Regions from separate parts of the Homo sapiens genome. Here region 2 is linked to region 1. The links come from fine-mapping of genetic effects on gene expression. A gene starts in region 1. The other region holds a variant in brackets. All regions are shown on one strand. Distances are from middle to middle.

Region 1 (11,025 bases):
GATAAGGAGTCTATTAGGAGGCGAATGCGATAGTTCTGGTAGGGAGGAATAGGAATATAAAGGAGGGATTGATTTAAGATGTATTAATTTGCTCGCACTTGTAATCCTAGCACTTTGGGAGGTCGAGGTGGGAGGATAACTTTAGGCCAGGAGTTTGAGACCAGCCTGGGCCACATATTGAGACCCTGTCTACTACTCCCCAGGAGGCTGAGGCTCATTCCACAGGCTTTTTAGTTTCTTGCATTTTCTGCTCAGCACCTAAGATATCCCTTGGGAAAAGCCAGACCCAGGCGTGTGGCCTGTTCTGCCTTCTGAGTCTCTGTGCTTTTAGGCAGCTAGAGGGCAGGAGGCCAGAGTTTGGAAAGAAAGAAAAAGAAGAAGAAGATGTATTAAGATGTAAAATTTAGAGTTTATGAGGTAAAATTGGTTCCATTTAAATAAGGATGGGAGAAGTCTAAGATGCTTTCTTCTCAGGGTTCAGTCTGAATAAGTCATAGGTGAGATTTACTAAGTTAGGAACATGAAAGAAATACAGTGAGAAGATGTTTGCCTATGTGACATCCAAGTGGAGCTGTCCAAAAGACAACTTGACCAAAGTTAACTTGAAACTCAAGAAGTACAGGATGGAAGCCAGGCGCGGTGGCTCACGCCTGTAATCCCAGCACTTTGGGAGGCCGAGGTGGGTGGATCACAAGGTCAAGAGATTGAGACCATCCTGGCCAATGTGGTGAAACCCCGTCTCTACTAAAAATACAAAAATTAGCCAGGCGTGGTGGCGTGCATCTGTAGTCTCAGCTACTCAGGAGGCTGAGGCAGGAGAATCGCTTGAACCTGGGAGGCAGAGGTTGCAGTGAGCCAAGATCACGCCACCACACTCCAGCCTGGCAACAGAGCGAGACTCCGTCAAAAAAAAAAAAAAAAGAAGAAGAAGTACAGGATGGAAATATAGATTTGGGAGTTCCAGTCTATAACTGTGTGTCACTCAGGTGGATTTAAATGAGACTTTTGTTGAAAGGGCACTAGGTGGGTCACGGGATTGCCAGGCAAAAGACCCAAGCTTGGAAAATAGGCAGGAACAATGAGAGGCCAGTCCACCACAGCACAGGCCAAATTCAGATGCCAGAACCAGCTCCACAAGACCACTGCTGCTGTCATCATTATTGGACATGGGATGTCACCACTACCAGTACCCACACCATGAAAGTCCCTGGGCATGGGGTAAAGCTGACCCTGCTCTCCTGTCACCATTGCCACTGGCATGAATTCTCTATGATTCTATTTCTCTGAGTCACTCCAGAAACTACATTTCTGGAAGATGCTTGGCCAGGCCAAGGTCACATGCCTCTGTCTTAGCTAGAGAGCTGGGAAAGCAAAGATTCAACCTTTTTAGTGTCTGTCATGAAAGATAGGCTCTGCTTACTTCTAAAACTTGTAACATAAGAAGGAGATTCTGTTTCTGGGCAACCCCAAATTATCAAGATCTCCTTCAAGTGGCCATGGAGGCCACAGGGAAGAGTAATAGGAGAAATGGATGTGGGCTGAACTGCTTTTCTACTTAAGTAGGGAATGAAGGAAAGGGAGTATAATAAGGATACTGTGAAGGAGTCATATGAGGTGTAGCAAGAAACTGGAAGAGTGTAGCCCATAAGAGCCAACAGAGGAAAGGGTTGCAGGGGCAGGATGATCAACAATGCCAAATGACACCATGCAGTCAACTGCAGGGGCAAGATGATTGACAATGCCAAATGACACCATGCAGTCAACTGCAGGGGCAAGATGATTGACAATGCCAAATGACACCATGCAGTCAACTGCAGGGGCAAGATGATTGACAATGCCAAATGACACCATGCAGTCAACTGCAGGGGCAAGATGATTGACAATGCCAAATGACACCATGCAGTCAACTGCAGGGGCAAGATGATTGACAATGCCAAATGACACTGTGTGGTCATATAAATGAAGCCTGAAAATTCCCAATGGATTTGTCCATTTGTAAGTCATGTGTCACTTTGGTGAAAGTATTTTCAGTAGAAATTTTGGGGAGAGGTCAGATGACACCAGATTTAAGGAACAACTGAAGACAAGAAAGTGGAGAGGGGGAGTATAGGCTACTCCTAGAAGTTTGGTTAAAGGCAAGAAAAATCAGTAGCATGGCATATAGGATTCAAATTGGATTTTCTTTTTACGGTTGGGCTAGTTGATCAAGCTTATATACTGAGATCAACGAGTAGGGGAGAGGAAAAAGTTGAATATAAATGAAAGAGAGAGGTAAGGAGCAAATTTCCCAAGGAGGCAAAAAGGAATGAAATACAGATCACAGTGAAAGGACTAACTTTGTATTTGAAGAGAGCCCTCTCCACTTCTGAAACAGAAAGGATGGGAGAGATTCAAATGTTTGGAGGGGACAGAAAATTGAGGCAGTTCCCCCGTGGCCTTTTATTTATTTATTTATTTTTAAAGAGATGGGGAGTCTCGCTCCATTGCTGAGGCTGGAGTGCAGTGGCATAACCACAGTTCACTGTAGCCTTGAACTCCTGGGCTCCAGAGATCCTCCTGCCTCAGCCACCCAAGTACCTGGCACCCAGAGCCTTTATTTTTTCTGTGAAGCAGAATGGGGGATGGTGGGAGAGGCTGACATGGGAAGGGTTGCTGGGTACACTGAGGACTCTGCTGAGGAGACAATGAATTTGTAGGAGCTCTGTACTGAGTGCACATTAAGTTAGCTTAAGCCATTTATTCTAGATAAAAACTGACTCCTAGTCCCTCAAGATCAGAGGGCCTCAGAAAGTGCCTTGGGCAGGGTATAGTGGCTCACACCTGTAATCCCAGTACTTTGGGAGGACAAGATGGAGGACTGCTTGGGCCCAGGAGTTCAAGATCAGCCTGGGCAACATAGGGAGACCCCATCTCTGCAAAAAAAAATTAATTAGCCAGATATGTTAGTGCATGCTTAAGCCTTGGAGGCTGCAGTAAGCTATGATCACACCACTGTACTCCAGCCTGAGTAACACAGTGAGACCCTGTCTCAAAAAAAAAAAAAAAAAAAAAAGAAGGAAGGAAGGGAGGGGTGCCTGGGAAGCTGCCAGAAAGCAGAGAGTAGTCTCACCATTTCTGGTCTCTGCCTCTCCATGCTTCATTCTGTGTCCCCAGATGGTCTTTTTCCTTTTCTCATTCATCATAGTAGGTGGGAGGTAGATGTACCATAGCTCCTAAGTCTATGTCTCTTTTGCTTAAGAAACCAGTCCAGTTAGAATCATAATCTGTCAGCTCTAATCCCAGATTTTCAGGAGAACATCTGTTTAACACAGCTTAGACCAGGAATCCACTCACAGTTCAATAAACTGCAGCTAAAGTGCTAGAGGTCACACAAGACGAACATGGCCCTGGGGCCTGTGGATCCATAGTGTGGGTGTGGAAACGATAATTCCCACAGAATAGGGTTCATGGGCTAGACTAACCTAAATGGTGTCCACTCACAAGCTTAAGTGTGCAGGATTGGATGACTTCCTTTATCCTGGTTTAGGATGGGAGAGTAGAGAAGGTAGATAGCTGGCATGACCCAGGAGTGTGATTTTTACAGAGTAAGTGCAAGCATATTAACAAAGATGTGATTAAAATGACTGACCAAGGATGTGGACTGGGTAGGAAAAGAGGTGAAGCCTGGAAGATACTGGTAAACTATGAGGTGGCTGAGATTCATGATGAATAGAAGAGCTAGTGGTGGTATGCTGGAAAGGGGGAATCCTAAAGGTTATTGAATACTGGAGTTGGACTTGTCACTCATGGGCACAGTGCTTATGTTCAAACACTCCCATACATACTTGGTTCTCAAAAGCTATTACGGGGCCCTTGATGGTGAGTTGTTTTAGAGAGCAGGCCTGACTCCTTCCCCTACCACTCTGAACTTCCGCACTCTGAAACCGAGGTTATATTGATCCCTCACTTTTTTCAGTTACTATAAGCAGTAGATGTAACAAACTCACACCGAGACGGTGTTGTGGCCCAGGCTGAGTGGCAAGGTGAGCAGAGGGGGACATCAAAAGGGGAAGGAGTTAGAAAGGAGAGGCTGAGAATGTGCAAATGTAAATCAACCAACAACAAAAAGTTAACTGGGAAACTTCTGAGGCCAGCTTAGGAGGGATAGACATGACGTGTTTATATCATTCAGGGCCAAAGCCTTCTTTGTGTGTACTGTGTCCAGCTACAAAGAGGGAGTGAGGAAACAGAGTAGGTCTAAGATAAGCCTTTTCCCATTAGTGTTGATGGAAAAGAGGGTCACGTGGAAGCCCCAAGACTAATAAGGATGAAGGAGATCTGGCCATGTCTAGGGTTAATAACCACAATAACCACAATTACAGCTTCCATGTATGAACTACTTCCTAGTCCCAAGTACTCTGCTGGTTACTTTACATGGATTAGTTGGAATCGTATGAAATTGAAGGTATCTGACTGTTTATAAACTGCAAAAATAGCAATTTCCTACGGTTCAACCTAACACTATCTCAGTTCATCCTCACCACAACGGCTCCGTGAAACACATATTACTGTCTCCACCTCAAAGAGGAGAAATCAGATTCACAAAGTGAAAGTCATCGCTTAAGGCTGCACCATCAATAAGTGCCGAACCCAAGCTTCAGACCCAGATTGACTAGAAGGCCAGGGTGCTCTCCATCACGCTGCAGCTACCGGGGAACAAATGAGTTAAATGCCAGAATTTTTAAAAGCCCGAGGTGTTCGACTTCCATTGTCGAACCAGAGAATCCTGCAGTCAGCAAGGCCTCAGGACTTCCCTCAGTCTCTACCTGCCGGCCCCAACCTCCGGCGAGGGGACTCCCTCCCGGCCTACAGGCAACCTGGGTTGCCCTTCCTGCTTGTTCCTCCCAACCACTCGGGGCGCTAAATGCAAGTATTCTCCTTTGGAAGGCTCCCCGCACTCCCCCAGAGTCCCTCTTCCTTCTCCACTGCCTCCCCTACCCACGGCGCAGGCGCCACCCCCCACTCCGCACCCTTTCCCGACTAGCGACCGCCGCGCAGGCGTCTCAAGGCTGGCGTCGGCTGCTGAGGCGCGCCCAGGAGCAGGCCGTCAGGCTGTTGGTCAGGAGCGGGCCACGTGCCATCGTGTCACCGCGCGAGCGTGCGCAGAGTGGCTGAGCGCGCCCGTGACGGAACGACGAGGCGTGGGGTGCGCGACCTCGCCCGCCAGGCCCGGCCCCCGCCCCTTGGCCTGCCGCTCCGCCCCCGCGGGGCGTCCCGGGCCGCTCGTCCCGTCGGCTGCGGCCGCGCGCGGCCCGGGGTCGCCGTGAGTACTCGCCAGGCTGGCCTGTGTGGCCGCCACCACGGGCACAGGGCGGTGCGGCCGGGCCACGGGAAGGGTGCGGGGCTCGCCCCGTCTCCGCAGGGGTGGACGAAGTGAGAGGCTTGGACCGGGAGGTTCTGAGGGCCCCTCCTAGGCTGGACAGGCTTCACTCAGGCCCGGCGGCCGGGCGGCATAGATCGGGCCCAGAGCGTCTTTCCTGGGGAGGCAGGTGTTGGGTGTTTTTGGGGTCTTCAGGGGAGCCCCGGAGAACAGGTGTAACTGCTTCCCCGGGAGAGGCCTCAGGGCCTGTCCTGGAAGCACGGGTGCCAGAGAGTGTTTTCGCGGGGCAGCCGTGTCCTCTCTCCCTGCGGGGTGCCCGAGATAGCGCTAACCTGCGGGAGTCGCCCCTCAGTGATTCTTCCTAGTAGTCTTTGTTTAGTGGCCTACTCCTGAGAAGGGAGCACACGGGATGGAGTGGAGTAACCTCCTCCAGGACCACAAAGCCGGGAGCCCAACCCACAATTTAAACATTGAGCTCTGAAGCTGCTTTGACTAGACGTGAAGTTGTCACACCTAGAGAAGCGCCCATGGACCTAGGGAAAGACCTTTGTGATCCAGACTTGAGGCTCATTTACATTTGACTTATTCTCGTGGAAACTCATAAAGCGTTCTATATTAGCCGCTGAGTTTTAACACCTTCTCTGGACACTCATCATATAGTCTATTTTTGGCCCAACTTCTTTTGAAAGGGCCCATTCTTTACCTCATTTAGATAAATCAGATAGGTCTTTCTTGCTTACTTCATTAACAACTCAATTAATTATAACCACATCACATGAAGATTAGATGTAATTAGGACCTGTCCAATGTCTTTACATCCCAGTCCTTCTGTACTCCTAACCTTAAGCAAATTGGTCGACCTCTGTAGGTCTAAGTATTCTGTGTGTAACATGAAAGCTTTGAATTAGGCCACGTTTCCGGCTAATTTTTTAAAAAGTGTTTGTGATCCTGTGAATTCCATAACCCACCACCTTCCTTTTCCAACTCTTCACCTTTTAAATCCACTTTCCATCTCTCCAGAGGAAAGGGCATTGAGAGTAGAGGAAGCAAGTCCCTTTCACTAAAGCAGCCTGGTTTGAAAAAGCCGGTAATCTCTGAACTGTCTCTTGCTTGAACAAGAAAAACTCCCTCTGAAATACCTTTTTCTCCTTGTGATAGCAACAGAAACCAAGCAGCAACAGCCCTTGGAAAGAGGCTAAATTTTTCTTGACTTCTGCAGCAACAAAGACCGTGAAAAGTTGGCACTTCTGGCCTAACGCTGCCGTCATCCTACCCCTCACCCCAGGGCAACCCAGGCTGGACATTTAGTGCCTCCCTCTTTATTCCTCTGTGATCATCCAGATCAGCACTTGACTGTTTATTTTCAAATCTCACGAACCTCACCCCAAGATCTTCACATTCTGGATCTCAGCTGCTCTTGAAGGTGAAGTTTTGCTTTTTAAAATCATTTTTTTGTGTGATTTTTGTCTATGTGTAGAAACATGCAGGTTATTGTATATATCTCCCATTTGACTTAAGTATCCAGCAGAGGGTTCATTCATTTATTCTCTCATTCAAGAAATGTGTTAAGGGACTAAGAATGTAGACTGAAAGCAGTCAAAGCCTCTGCCACCAGAGGTTACATTCTGATAAACATTTTATATGTTAGAACATGGTAAGTGGAAAAAAATAAAGCTGGGAAGGGAGATAGAGAGTGCTAGTGTGTGGGTGTTGAGTTGTTTCTGTTTTAATAAATAGGATGGTCAAGGTGGCCTTTGAGCAGAGATCTGGAAGAGTGAAGGAACAAGCCATGTGGATATCTGGGTGGAAAGCATTCCAAGAAAGGGGAACAGCAGGGACAAAGGCTCTATGGCGGGAATATGCTTGGGAATATGGTGGGAAGATGAAGGCCCTATAGTGGGAATATGCTTGATGAGTTTGAAGAACAGTAATGAGGCAATTGTGGAGTGTTGGTTAATCTTCCTGTTAACATTTAGACTTGACTTTGAGGACAGCCCATTAGAGTAGCTTCTGATTTTTTTTTTAAACTTTTTATTTTGAAACTTTTCAACTTTACACAAAAGTAGGGAGGTAGGGATTACCAGAAAACCATCATGTACGTCACATAGCTTCACCAGTAATCAACATTTTGCTATTTGCTGTATTTATTTCATCTGTTATCCTCCCTCCTTTTTTTATGTGTGTGCCAGGGTAGTATTTTAAACAAATCTCAGTAATCGGGTCATTCCATCTCTAAGAACTTTAGTTATACTTTCCGTTTGCATGTTGTTTCTGAAGGATCAGGCAACACTATGAGCTGGAAGACTCCTATGCTGGCTCTGCTCTGGCATGGTGTCTTTTGTCCCCATCCTGGCTTAGTTACCAGACTTAAGTTGGTATCTAAGGAATGAACCACAGGTCCTTAGAACACACAAGGATCTAGAACTAGAACAGTGGTTCTCAAATTTTATGCATCAGAACAACTTGGAGCGTGTGTTAAAACACAGATTACTGGGTCCAATTTCTGGAATTTCTTTTTTTCTTTTTCTTTTTTTTTTTTTTTTTTTGAGACAGAGTTTTGCTGTTGCCCCCCAGGCTGGAGTGCAATGGCGCAGTCTTGGCTCACTGCAACCTCTGCCTCCGTAGGTCAAGTGATTCTCCTGCCTCAGCCTCCTGAGTAGCTGGGATTACAGGCGTGCACCACCATGCCTTGCTAATGTTTTTATTTTAGTGGAGAAGGAGTTTCACCATGTTGGCCATGCTGGTCTCGAACTCCTGACCTCAGGTGTCCTGCCCACCTGGGCCTCACAAAGTGCTAGGATTACAGGCATGAGCCTCAGTGCCTGGCCATTTCTGGAGTTTCTAATTCAGTAGGTCTTAGGAGGAGTCTGAGAATTTGCATTTCTAACAAGTTCCTAGATGATACTGATGCTGTAGGTCCACCAACCCCAGTCAGAGAATCACTAATCTGGAAACCTGACATTCAGTAGAACTGTATTAGAGACCTGCCAGGCACAGTGGCTCACATCTGTAATCCCAACACTTTGGGAGGCCGAGGCGGGTGGATCACCTGAGGTCAGGAGTTCGAGACCAGCCTGGCCAACCTGGTGAAACCCCGTCTCTACTAAAAATACAAAAATTAGCTGGGCATGGTGGCGGGCGCCTATAATCCCAGCTACGTGGGAGGCTGAGACAGGAGAATTGCTTGAACCCGGGAGGCAGAGGTTGCAGTGAGCCGAGATCGCACCATTGCACTCCAGCCTGGGCGACACAGCGAAACTCTGTCAGAAAACAAAAAAAGAAGAAGAAGAAGAACTGTGTTAGAGACCAAGAACACCTCTGTTTGAGGTTGGAGTAGCTTCAGCTGCGATGTGTGCAAAGCCAGTGACTTGCTGGTCTAGAGAGCAACAGAAAGCTTTTTTAGCCTGCTTTTAGGGTAGATTTGCCATCTTCAGCCATTAAAGCCTTCATAATTTCACAGATGAGTTTTTTGTTTTGTTTTGTTTTTCTGCTATATGTGGAGGTTTTAATGGAGCTAAAAGTTGCTGGTATAGGATTAGGAGTCTGTGGGATTAGAAGCGAGCAGGGAATTGTGTATGAAAGGGCTCTGGGTTAAGTAAAAGTTTTTCTAAGCAATTTTTGGGATAATTATTGCATTTTTCTTTGGGAAGCAGGTTCCAAGATGACTTTAGGGCATTATTTTGGCAATGACAACTGAGACCATAACTGCCAAAAGATGTTCAGTGTTGTTGAGGACTTTTTATTTTGAGATGGAGTTTTTGCTCTTACTGTCCAGGCTGGAGTGCAGTGGCGTGATCTAGGCTCACTGCAATCTCCGCCTCCCGGATTCAAGCGATTCTCCTGCCTCAGCCTCCTGAGTAGCTGGGATCGTAAGCGCACGCCACCACACCCAGCTAAGTTTGTATTTTTGGTAGAGACGGGGTTTCACCCCATTGGTCAGGCTGGTCTTGAACTCCTGACCTCAGGTGATCTGGCCGTTGAGGACTTTTTAAGTTAGCTATTGTTGCCGTATAATAGCTAGTAATACTGATGTTTAAAGAGAGATACTGGCTAATATGGAGAAATAACTAAGAATAAAGAGTCCAGAAATAATCCGATTCTGAATCTTAACTCTGGTGTGAGTTGGTACTCTGAAGAATTAACTGACAGAGTAAACATAAGCATCTTGTCCTGCCACCATCACTTTTGGCTTTAGGAGTTGTAACATTATGAGCTAGAGCAGGATCTTGCTCTAATCCCAGCTCTCCAGTTTAAGTAGAACAGCAGTATCTTGCATATAGTGCTTTTGTGTTTCATTATCTATAAAGAACTGCATGTGCAAGTGTGCATGTATATGCACGCAAGCATGTCTTTTTATATGCAAGTATCTGTATGTATAATAAAAGTGTATTAATAGCCAGGTGCAATGGCTCACGCCTGTATTCCCAGCAATTTGGGAGGCCGAGGCCGGTAGGTCACCTGAAGTCGGGAGTTCGAGACCAGCCTGGCCAATGTGGTGAAACCCCATCTCTACTGAAAATATTAAAATTAGCTGGGCGTGGCAGCAGGCACCTGTAATTCCAGCTACTTGGGAGGCTGAGGCATGAGAATTACTTGAACCCAGGAGGCGGAGGTTGCAGTGAGCCAAGATCGCGCCATTGCACTCCAGCCTGGGCGACAAGAGCGAAACTCTGTCTCAAAAAAAAAAAGTGTATTGATAAATACGTGTGCCTGTATATATACACCACCCAGCTATTAAGTGGTGATGAAACCCATTATTATCTACTTTCCACAGGACAGTGACTTGTTACCACCGCAACAGCAGAGCCTGCCATCCCCAACAGATCACCAGTTGTCCCTGACATCGTGCCCTACCTTGTCTCCCTTTGTGGTCTCCTAAATGCCCATCTCGTTGGCCTTGGTTCGGCTAGTGGTATGGAGGGGTGCTGCCTAGCACTGACCTGAGAGTGTGTGTGACCCACTGACCCAATGGTGAGAACTGACTGCCCACCTCTCCAACTGATTGTTCAAAGGGTAGAGGAGACAAAGTGCAGATCTCACCCTTTCTTGGTATTTTCCCTTCTACCCTTTTGGAAGATAGAGTGGCTATTTGAAGTTAAAGGAAAGGGAAGGGGCACAGAAACAGTATTACTTGGTGTGTTTGTGTAGTGGGTTTTCTTGGGGAGGGAGAGGAGAGTTAAGTACTTTAAAGGATAGAAAGAAAATAATGAGACAAGAGAGTTTAGGTGTGCTTGGGAACTGTCTTAGGTAATGATCCTGGAAGAGGCCAGCTTGTACTGGAACCCAGATATGCTTAGGAGTCAACCTTGACATTGAAGTCATTTGCATTTCTTTCCTACTGGCTACCAGAGCCTCTCAGTCATCATACTGAGACTTCAGAAGGCCAAAATTCCCTAGATGTTTTCCTCTGTCCCACTAAGAGCTAGTTTATGGATATGATCATATCAGGAAGAGACTGAGACTCTCACAAAGGGTGACATGAAAGGTGTAAAGGGATCAGGGCTTCAGTTATTCTATATTTCCCAATCTTTGTGGGAATCTGTTCCTCACCATATCATCCCACGCCTTTCCATGGGATAATAGGGACCTAACAAAGCATGATATCCTTATTTCTCACCACTAGGACATCAAAGGCCAGTTCTGGAATGATGACGACTCGGAGGGAG
Region 2 (11,025 bases), 25 kb after region 1:
TGACCAACATGGAGAAACCCCATTTCTACTAAAAATACAAAATCAGCTGGGCATGGTGGCCCATGCCTGTAGTCCCAGCTACTCGGGAGGCTGAGGCAGGAGAATCGCTTGAACCCGGGAGGCGGAGGTTGCCGTGAGCTGAGATTGCTCCATTACACTCCAGCCTGGGCAACAAGAGCGAAACTCCGTCTCAAAAAAAAAAAATTACATGTATTGTGTACAACATGATGTTTTGAAATATGTGTACATTGCAGAATGGTTCAGTAGAGCTAATAAGCATATGCATTATCTCGCGTATGTATTTTTTGTGGCGAGAACACTTAAAATCTACCACAGTGATTTTGAAGAATATTACACATTGTTACTAACTATAGTCACCACCAATAGGTTTTTGTGTCCTTTGCATGTAGAAATTAACACTGTTAATTTCAACTAAGTTTTCTTTGCATCCAGAGACGTCTGTCTCCTCCTGCTATCCCCTTGCCCTGTCTCTGGGCCTCCTTGATGATATAGAATGTCCAGAGCCTTGAGGCACTATTGCTGTGCTCTTCTCCTAGCCAAGATTTTGACTGTCCCTGCTGCCATCCATTCCTGATCTCAATTTCTATTGTTTTCCTGACATAGCTTTCCCTTTTTAGTTTGCCTCCCTCTTCCTAGTCAGCCTTCAGTACTTCCTCAGTGCAACAGCTTTCTCCCTCTTAGCCTGAGGAATAACCAGGCATAGACCATCTGAGGTGGCATCACAGGTACATAGATGAGGCACAAAAAACAAAGACAACAGCAAACTGTATCCACATGGGAGATAGTGCTCTCTTGCTGAGCCCTCAGTGTTTTATGTCTGTTCTCTTCTATCTTCTGTGTTCAGCCTGTATAGAGCTTAGTCTGTCCTTGACTCCTAAGGAAGTTCATTCTAGTTTCTTCTGTTTCTTTTTCCAGCCTAGACAGTAACTTTCTCTCCGTTTCTCCCCATTCCTGAGAGCTTTCATGTTTTCTCTTAAGCTAAGGAAGGATGGCTTCTGAGCCCAGGTCTGAATCTGAGTCTAAATCCCAGGTATAAGTTGTCACCATTCTAATTCAGACCTCTTGCTGTTTTTTCTTTTCTTTTTTTGTAGGTGACCTCTGTGCTCTTCCTTTTGTTCTACCCTTTTTACTCCCTACTTGTAGCAGCACTCCTCCCACCCCTTTTTTTTTTTCATCCATTGTTTAACTCCCCAATAATTAGCTTGTGTCTGGTCACTACCTTCCTTTTTACCTTTTTATTCATAAGCACTATCACCCACAGGAATATCCAGATAGTGACCTTGACATTTCACACAATTTGGACAGCCCAGGAATCCTTGTTTATTCTCCCAAAGGCAGAGGAAGACTGGCTTGTTCAGAAAGGATAGCTTAAATACATAATTATTCTATCCTTTTTATTTTTTTCTGTTTCTTCCCAGGATCATCTCTAGCAACAGGTCACACATTGTCAAACTACCTCTCAGCAGGGTAAGTGACCATTCTCCCTCTAAATGCTTTAAATTTCTGGTGAGGGGCAGGGAGGGGCTGGAAGCCAGCTAACCATATTGGTCCTAGATCTGCCTACATTGCTCTGTCCATCAACTTAGTCTTTGGGCCTTAGCATATTTCCCTTGTGTGGGGTTAATGCAAGCCTGATTTTTTCCCCTATCCCCAACCCTTCCCTCCCTGATCTCGATTTCTGCTCTGTTTTCCTGATTCCACCCCCACCCTGGGCAGCAGCTGAAGTTCATGCACACCTCACACCAGTTCCTCCTGCTGAGCAGCCCTCCTGCCAAGGAGGCTCGGTTCCGGACCGCCAAGAAGCTCTATGGCAGCACCTTTGCCTTCCAGTGAGGAGGCTGGGGGCTGGGCAGTGGGGGTGGTGAGGGGGCGGGGATGAGCAAGAAGGATGCCCTTGAGATATGAGTTTGTGTTACATGTGTCCATCAACCAGTCAGCAGATACTTACTAAATGCTATTGTGGTAGGTGCTATAGAGGACAAAAAGGTACATATAATGTGGTCTTTATTCTCAAACTATTTATGATGTAGTTGAGGAAAAATGACATTTACATGTGAAAAGATGTGGCTGAAGAAATAGATTGGAGAGAACAGATCTGAAAGCTACTTTGATGGAAAAATCCACAATTTATGCCTAATTTTGAGAGGAGGGAAAGAGAAAGAGAGGTATTAAAGAGAACTTATAGGGAGTGGTAGTACCCTTTTCTTAAAATAGAACATGAAGTCAGAACTGGAAGCCATATTTGGGGTCAGTGATAAATTTGTTGATTTTCAGATGAATTTATTGAATTTGAAATGTCAGGATAATGGGCAAATAAAAATACTGAACCAGCAGTTGAGGATTTAGGATGGGAGTAGCTGAAGCACCGAAGAGAGGATGGGACTGGAAATAGAGACGTAGAGTTTAACCACACACACACATCTTGCATGCCTGTGACTGTATCCATGTGCATGTCCATCACTAGGTGTACCTGTCCATCTTCATGTCCTGTGTGGGTGAGAATGGGTGGGAATGGCAGTCTTGGGAGTGTTCCTGGGAACCTCATATCATAAGGAGACATGTATTCTACCCTGCCTTACAGTGGGTCCCACATTGAGAACTGGCATTCGATCCTGCGCAATGGGCTGGTCAATGCATCCTACACCAAACTGCAGGTGAGGCTGTGCCCCTTTCTCCTTTATTTCTAACCGCTCCCTTCCCTACTCAGTTTTGTGGAAGGCTGCTCTAGAGTAAGCTGTTTTTGCCTCAGTGTCCTCAAGCCTAACCTGTCTTGTGGAGTTCCCTAGAGAGGAAGTTAGAACTGTATGAATAGAGAACGTGGCTGTTGTGTATTTGATCTCAGTCTGCGTTTTTTTGGTGGTTTGGGGAATGGGAATGTACCTGTAAGCAGGAATATGGAATTGCTGATTGTAGCCACTGTGATGAATTAATCTATTAGAGCTTTTCAATTTATGTGGCTATTCATTCAAGGAGTAGATATGGGAGACTTTTTCTATGCCCTGAGAGACTCCAGGGAGTGTGTATTGGCCCTCCTTCTGGCTACCCGTTCTGTAGTTCCTCTTTTTTGGAATCTGCATATGTACCAAGGCCTGGAGACAGGAAAATGAATGCTGAGGGACTGACTCAGTGGTTCTACCATTTCCCACTCTCGAATGTGTCAGTATGTAGCACTTCATAGGCAAGCAGGTTAACCTGCATCCACTTTTCAGCCAGTTGGCTTTCCGAGAATAGGTGCTTAGGGTTACTTGAATGAGAAGGTAGAAGGAGGGACAGAGGGCTGGATAAGCCTTGCTGCTGCCTAATAAATAGCCATGGGAGGGCCCAGGCTCATATTACTCATCCTGGTGTTTCCCTGCAAGCTGCATGGAGCAGCCTATGGCAAAGGCATCTACCTGAGCCCCATCTCCAGTATTTCCTTTGGATACTCAGGTAAGAAATATTCTGTGGCCACCTTGACTCTATTTACATTGCCTCCATTTGTGAATACATGATTTGTGCTGTCTGTTCCTCCCTCATTATGGATACTTGGTCTGTGTCAGCTCTCTCCCCGATCATGGATACATATTCTCTCTCTCTCTACATTTTCTTATTAGAAATTTAGATTCTTTACAAGGTGAGGCCAGTTATTGTTAAAAATGATGGTTTTATTCATAGCAGGGGCTTGGCCCTGGGAATGGGTGGAGGAATAACAGGGACATAACAAGGCTTTTTGTAGAACACGTTTGGTGTTGGCAATTATAGATTGTGTTTGTGTATACTTGTACATGTAAGTTTACATGTGAAAACATCTGAAGGCCTGAAGGCTTGCGTCCTTTCCATTGGCTTATATTTCTAGAGACACTGTTCTCTCTCTCAACCATCTTTTAAAATTTAAACTGTCTATAATCTTACACTATTATGTTAGTCACATTGAATGCAAGATAAAGCATTTTATTCTAAAGATGAGGTCCAGATTCTAATCAGGAGATGAGTCAAGCTCAGAAAAGGAAATCTGATTTAGAGTTCTCTCAGTCTTCCTGGCTTATGTCTTAGTTCATTTTCAGTCTGCTTTTGTGCTTGTTTGATGTAGTCTCTGTACAAGGTATAGTCACCATGTAGTTGCATGTTCACTACATGAAGGGGATTGTGCTAGATTCTTAATAGATTATTACTTGATATCCTGTAGTAATTTGTAACTGTTACAAAGATCAGAAAATGTAGTGCCATCAGGAGGCTGAGGCAGGAGAATCGCTTGAACCCGGGAGGCGGAGGTTGCAGTGAGCTGAGATTGCACCACTGCACACCAGCCTGGTTGACAGAGGGAGACCCCGTCTCAAAAAAAAAAAGAAAAAAGAAAGTGCCAGAATCAGAGGCCTAAAAACATCTCTAACAACAGAATAAACCAAACAAAATAGAAAAAAGGAGATAATACAGGTAAGAACTAACACCTGTGAAATAAAAATAGGTACAATAGATAGTACCAAAAAAGTCCAAAGATGATTTCAAAGAACTAACAGAACAGATAAACCCTGGTTAGATTAAGAGAAAAAGGACACAATTAAATAATATAATGACCAAAAAAAGCAGTACAACTATAGATAAGCAGAATTTAAAAAGGTAATAAGGCGGGGCACGGTGGCTCACAC[G/C]TGTAATCCCAGTACTTTGGGAGGCTGATGTGGGCAGATCACTTGAGGTCAGGAGTTCAAGACCAGCCTGGCCAACATGGTGAAATCCTGTCTCTACTAAAAATAGAAAAATTAGCCAGGCATGGTGGCATGCACCTACTCGAGAGGCTGAGGCAGGAGAATCGCTTGAACCCAGGAGGCAGAGGCTGCAGTCAGCCAAGATCAAACCAGTGCACTCCAGCCTAGACAACAAAGCAAGACTCTGCCTAAAAAAAAAATAAAAAGTAATAAGAGAGTTACCTACACTATGCTAATAATTTAAAAACTTTGATAAAATGGATAAATTTCTAGAAAAAGATAACAAATCTGACAAGAAATAGCCTGTATAATCATAATACTATAAAAGAAATAGAAATTGTGTAAAAATTTCCACACACAAAATAAACCTCACCAAGCCCAGATGGTTTTACAAATTAATCTTAAACTTTCAAGGAACAAATTATTTTAGTTTTATCTAAAGTCTTCCAGAGAATAGAAAAAATGGAATTACAAATCATAAAAGATTGATAAATTTGACTATATTAAAATTAAAAACTTCTGGCTGGGCACAGTGGCTCACACCTGTAATCCCAACACTGGGAGGCTGACGTGGGATGATTGCTTGAGCTCAGGAGTTCAAGACCAGCCTGGGCAACATGGCAATACCCCATCTCTGCAAAAAAATAAAAATAACCAGGTCTGGCAGTGCGTGCCTGTAAGTCCTAGCTGGTCAGGAGGCTGAGGCAGGAAGATCACTGAGCCCAGGAGGTTGAAGCTGCAGTGAGCCATGATCATGTCACTGCACTCCAGCTTGGGCAGTAGAGCGAGACCCTGTCTCAAAAAAGAAAAAAAATTTAAAACTTATATTCTTCAGAAGACACCCTAAAGAAAGTGAAGAGACAGGCTACAAACCGACAGAAGACATTTGCAGCACATATAACCACAAAAGATTAGTAATAAAAGTGTACTTTTTGGCTGGGCGCAGTGGCTCACGCCTGTAATCCCAGCACTTTGGGAGGCCAAGGCAGGGAGATCACCTGAGGTTGGGAGTTTGAGACCAGCCTGACCAACAGGGAGAAGCCCCATCTCTACTAAAAATACAAAGAAAATTAGCCAGGCGTGGTGGCACATGCCTGTAATCCTAGATACTCAGGAGGCTGAGGCAGGAGAATCGTTTGAATCTGGGAGGCGGAGGTTGCAGTGAGGTGAGACTGCGCCATTGCACTCCAGCCTGGGTAACAGAGCAAGACTCCATCTCAAAAAAAAAAATAATAATAAATATGTTCAATAAGAAGAGGGAAGTCCCAGAAGACAGAGTGAGACTGTGATGCCTTTTTTATATTGTTCAAAAGCAAACAAAATTAAACATTGTTTAGGCATATATATGTGTATTATGTGTGTGTGTGTGAAAACTAAAGGAAAAAGAAAAAACAAAAGAATAATAACTCAAATTGCAGGATAGTGATTACCTCCAAAGGGAGGCATATAGTTAGATGTAAGTCACTGGTAATGTTTTAGGTTTAGAATTTAGTTCTTTGATTGGGTCTCTGGGTATTCATTGTCTTATTAAAAAATAATAATGAGGCTGGGCATGGTGGCTCACACCTGTAATCCCAGCACTTTGGGAGGCCAAAGCAGGTGGATCACGAGGTTGGGAGTTCGAGACCAGCCTGACCAACATGGTGAAACCCTGTCTCTACTAAAAATAGAAAAATTAGCTGGACATGGTGGCAAACATCTGTAGTCCCAGCTACTCGGGAGGCTGAGGCAGAAGAATCACTTGAACCTGGGAGGCGGAGGTTGCAGTGAGCTGAGATCGTGCCACTGCACTCTAGCCTGGGCAACAGAGTGAGACTCCGTCTCAAAAAAACAAAACAAAACAATAATGTGTTATGAAACAAAGATTATGATTAATCCACACAGGGCAAGTGACCAACACATATTTATTGAATATATGAGTGAATCTTACTCTGTGTGCCTGGCATCCAAAGTGGGGTTAGGGTTGGAATAGTCTTTTTGATTTGTCTGGATTCTTCACTTTTTATCTTTGTCTCAGCCTAAGCATCCCTCTGATTAAGTTCTTTTGTCTTTCCGAGTAGTGAGATTCTCATGGTTCTTGGTGCCCACTGAGATTCTTCTTTTCTGTTTTCTCCCTATGCCCTCCCTTTCTTTCTCTTTTCTCCCCCTGGCCTTTGTTTACTACCAAGTGCCTAAATACCTTTAGTTACCAGATGAAGCCAGAAATCTCTGTTGACCTCTCGTCTTTCTTCATCACTTAACCGATTACATAAAGATATCATAGACACCTTTCATCTCCCTCTCTCAAAGGGTAATTGATTATAGATACAAAATGCAGTTGAATTTTACTATTGGAGTTAGAGATCATCTAATTTAATCCCTTATTACTTTACAGATAAGAAAGCTGATATACAGAAAAGTTAAATGATTTTCTTATGGTCACACAGCTATGAGTAGCAGAGATAGGGCTGCAATCCAGGTCTCCTAATTTCTAGGCCATTGTTGTTATCACTATATGATACGGTTTGGCTGTGTCTCCACCCAGATCTCATCTTGAATTCCCATGTGTTGTGGAAGGGACCCAGCGGGAGGTAACTGAATCATGGGGGCAGGTTTTTATTTGTTTTTGTTTTGTTTTGTTTTGTTTTTTGAGACAGAGTCTCACTCTATCGCCCAGGCTGGAGTGCAGTGGCGCGGTCTCAGCTCACTGCAAGCTCTACCTCCCGGGTTCACGCCATTCTCCTGCCTCAGCCTCCCGAGTAGCTGGGACTACAGGCGCCCACCACCACGCCCAGCTGATTTTTTTGTATTTTTAGTAGAAGTGGGGTTTCACCATGTTAGCCAGGATGGTCTCGATCTCCTGACCTCGTGATCCGCCTGCCTTGGCCTCCCAAAGTGCTGGGATTATAGGTGTGAGCCACTGTGCCTGGCCCATGGGGGCAGGTTTTTCCAGTGCTGTTCTTGTCATAGTGAATAAGTCTCATGAGATCTGATAGTTCTATAAGGGGGAGTTTTGCTGCACAAGCTCTCTCTTTGGCTGCCACCATCCATTTAAGATGTGACTTGCTCCTCCTTGCCTTCCACCATGATTGTGAGGCCTCCCCAGCCATGTGGAACTGTAAGTCCATTAAACCCTTTTTCCTGTATAAATTACCAAGTCTTGGGTATGTCTTTATCAGTAGTGTGAAAATGGACTAATACACTATATTAGACTGACAGAGTAGGCCTTGCTTGAATGACGGGTCTCTGAGGGCCCTATAGATATGTGAGTATGTATAATGGGATGTTGGGGGAAATGTGTGCAAATGTTCCACTTACTGTAGTTACTCCAGCATTTGACCAACTGTCTTGTATGTTTTCTTCTACGCTATTCTGCTCTGGTTTTCTGTTTTTTCTTTCTCACACTATCTTTAGCCTAATGGCATTGAGTGCCCTCTGGAAGTGAGGGTTGGTGTAAATAGCGTTCATATATCTAGTTCCAGTGACTTGGCTATAAAGTTCAGGTTGAAATAGGGGACAGTGAAAAAGGAGGTGATATACTCCATCTGTTTGTTTAGTCTTGTTTAGGGACTTCTGATAAGTGCATACTCTGGACACAGAACATCTAGGGATTATTCTAGCCACCATGATCTCAGGTTCTGGGCTCAGGAAATGGACAATCATTGGATCAGTGTGGAAAGGATAGTGTACAACAGGATTGAGTTGGGACAAGATTTGGGTTATATCATAAGGGCCATCTCTAAGACCTGCCAGAGAAATCAGATTGTTCTTTATTATCTTTTATGTGCCTCCTCTGGAGTATAACCTGAATGGGAATTTTACTTTTTGTCACTGACATACCCAGTTTGAGAGAAGGTCATGATGTTTGGGTGGAGAGCTGAACCTAGTTAAGGCTAATGGGGAAGGTGAAAACAGGGGTTATGAGTACCTGTCCTGTAAAAGGAAGAAATGGGCAATTCAAGCCTTGAGGCTCTTGGTGTCCTGAGTTTTGTTCAGGCCCTACCTAAATCTGTCACGAGACTTGAGTGTAAATGCATGATGAATTGACAGCCTGAGCAGTGAAGAATGTCAGTTCAACAGCTATCAGTCTATTTCTACACCATGGCTATGAGAAAACCAAGAACTGATCAGAGTGGAGTTAATAGTAATAGAAAGTTCCAGGGTAGAGTGGTGAGAGTGCTTATGACCTATAATGATAGCATCATCTCCATCTTCATCTCTCTCCCTGGTGGACACACACAGGCACGTGTGTCCACACATGGGTAGACATTTTTATCCCTAACTGTGGTAAGATTGGGCCTATGATAAAGCTGAGTACAGAGACTTAACGTCCTATCCTCAAACCAAAAAGAGTGAGGAGTGGGAGCACACAAGCACATTTTCATATCTAAATAAGAAAAGTCCAAGTTGAGTCTATAAATGTTATAAACGGGTAAGGAAGGTAGAGAGTTTATGGATTTAGATAATGTGGAAACTAGAAGGAATGGGCACTTCTTTCTCAAGCCTGGGAAGACTGTTTGAAGTAGGATTCTTCAAGTTAGTTGCCATTGTGATTTCCTGTACAAAATTATTCATCACTTAACTGCTGATGCTTTTCTCTTGAATGACTGGTCAGGTTTTTAATGTAACTTTGAGACTAGAGCAAATCTGACTTGTTCTGCTTGCTTCCTTTCCATTCATTTTACTCATCCAGGCACTTGACACCAAGGTATTGATGTCCCACTCTCCTGGGCCCCTCATTCCTGGCTGATTTCATGTGCTGCTCCCCTATCTTAGAACCCTGCAGTGGTTCCCTAATGTTCTGAGGATAGACTTTAGTTGCCTTAACATGGCCTGCAAAGCCGGCTTGATCTGATCCTAGCTTGCCTCTTCTACATCATTTCTCACCACTCCTCTGCAATTCACTATTCTCTATGCAACTAACACACACTACCTTATCTTTCCTTCAGGCCTTCTGTATCCTATTACTTCTTCCCAGACACTTCCCCGCTGTTTATTTAATTAACTCTTCCTAATCCTGCAGTTCTCAGTCTAGCTGTCACCACATGACTTCTTTAAACTCTTAGGCTAGGCTAGTTGCCCTCCTCTAGGCTCACACCATGCTCTATAATCTGCATCACAACCCCTTACCATGCTGTGTTGTTAATTACTTGTTCTTGCTTGTAATTTCCAGCAGACTAAATTCTGTGGGGGAAAATAATCTTCTTTGTTTTATTCTCTGCTGTTTTGATGAGCATCTAGCTCAGTGCTGGGACATAGTAGGCACTTTCGTAAATTTTTGATAAATGAAGTGGGTGTATTGTTCTGTGACAGGAATGGGAAAAGGACAGCACAGGATGCCCTCCAAGGATGAGCTGGTCCAGAGATACAACAGGATGAATACCATCCCCCAGGTATTGGAACTATTCTAATGAGGCAGGACCTTTCCCTGGGGCTAATTTAGGCTCCAGAGCTGGACAGGGAAACAGTGGGGTGAGAATGGGTTGGGGAGTGATTTGAGATCATTTAAAGGAGTCAGGTATGTTCTAAAGTGAACACACGTCTGGAGTCATATGTAGCTGAAGTCATGAGTATAAAAGCAGAGGCTGAGTTTAGATGAAAATGTAAAGATGGAAGCTGTGACCCTATCCAGACTGATTATGGGAAAGAAGAATTTTCTGGGCGGCGAGGGGTGTTGCTGGGAGCCCAGGATATCTCTGATCCCCACTCCCAATCATCAGCTAACCAGCCTCTCTAGGGAAAGCTGTACCCATCTACCTGGCTCTGGTCTCCTTTGCCTCCTTCTCTTCCAGACCCGATCCATTCAGTCACGGTTCCTGCAGAGTCGGAATCTAAACTGTATAGCACTTTGTGAAGGTAGGTAGCTTGCCCATGTCCTGTTTTTCTGGGTCTCTAACCTTTGTTTCTGATGTAATTTTGGCACATGATCTGGCCAAGAGTGATGTTGAAGTGGCATGGCTTCCTTCTCCTGCCTGGACTCTGTGCCTTAAGCATTGTATCTATGATTTCTGGCCCTCTTTCTCCCAGTGATTACATCTAAGGACCTCCAGAAGCATGGGAACATCTGGGTGTGCCCTGTGTCCGACCATGTCTGCACAAGATTCTTCTTTGTGTAAGTGTCGGAGGGACTCTGGGGATTACTCGAGGAGTGAGGTTGGGGGTGTGATGGTGTGTGGCTACTGGGAAAAGTCTATTTCTGTTATCTGAGACATGTCCTTGGCTACCTGAGTGGAGCTGTCACTGGGACTTTACCATTGGAGGATGGGAATGGGTATAGATGGTTGGGATCTATCTAGAGGAAACCAGATAAGCTGAATATCTTCCACTATGAAGCAGTGAGAAA

The links.
Region 2: its variant is fine-mapped to the expression of PARP6 in tibial nerve (GTEx, PIP 0.96).

What each region holds. Positions count from the first base shown.
Region 1 is chr15:72,266,780-72,277,804 of GRCh38, reverse strand. It overlaps PARP6 (poly(ADP-ribose) polymerase family member 6), which reads left to right and starts at 5,251. Exons shown (of 24, transcript NM_001323532.2): 1 at 5,251-5,412; 2 at 6,518-6,782; 3 at 10,134-10,330; 4 at 10,983-11,025. The coding sequence starts at 10,328. RefSeq lists enhancers at 4,749-4,838, 4,899-4,948 and a silencer at 5,089-5,508.
Region 2 is chr15:72,241,670-72,252,694 of GRCh38, reverse strand. It overlaps PARP6 (poly(ADP-ribose) polymerase family member 6), which reads left to right. Exons shown (of 24, transcript NM_001323532.2): 17 at 1,440-1,488; 18 at 1,741-1,850; 19 at 2,603-2,675; 20 at 3,381-3,450; 21 at 9,996-10,075; 22 at 10,475-10,538; 23 at 10,710-10,794. Among named protein-coding and RNA genes, the nearest start is that of PKM, 16 kb to the right of the region's middle. The variant G/C (reference allele first, on the strand shown) is at 4,647.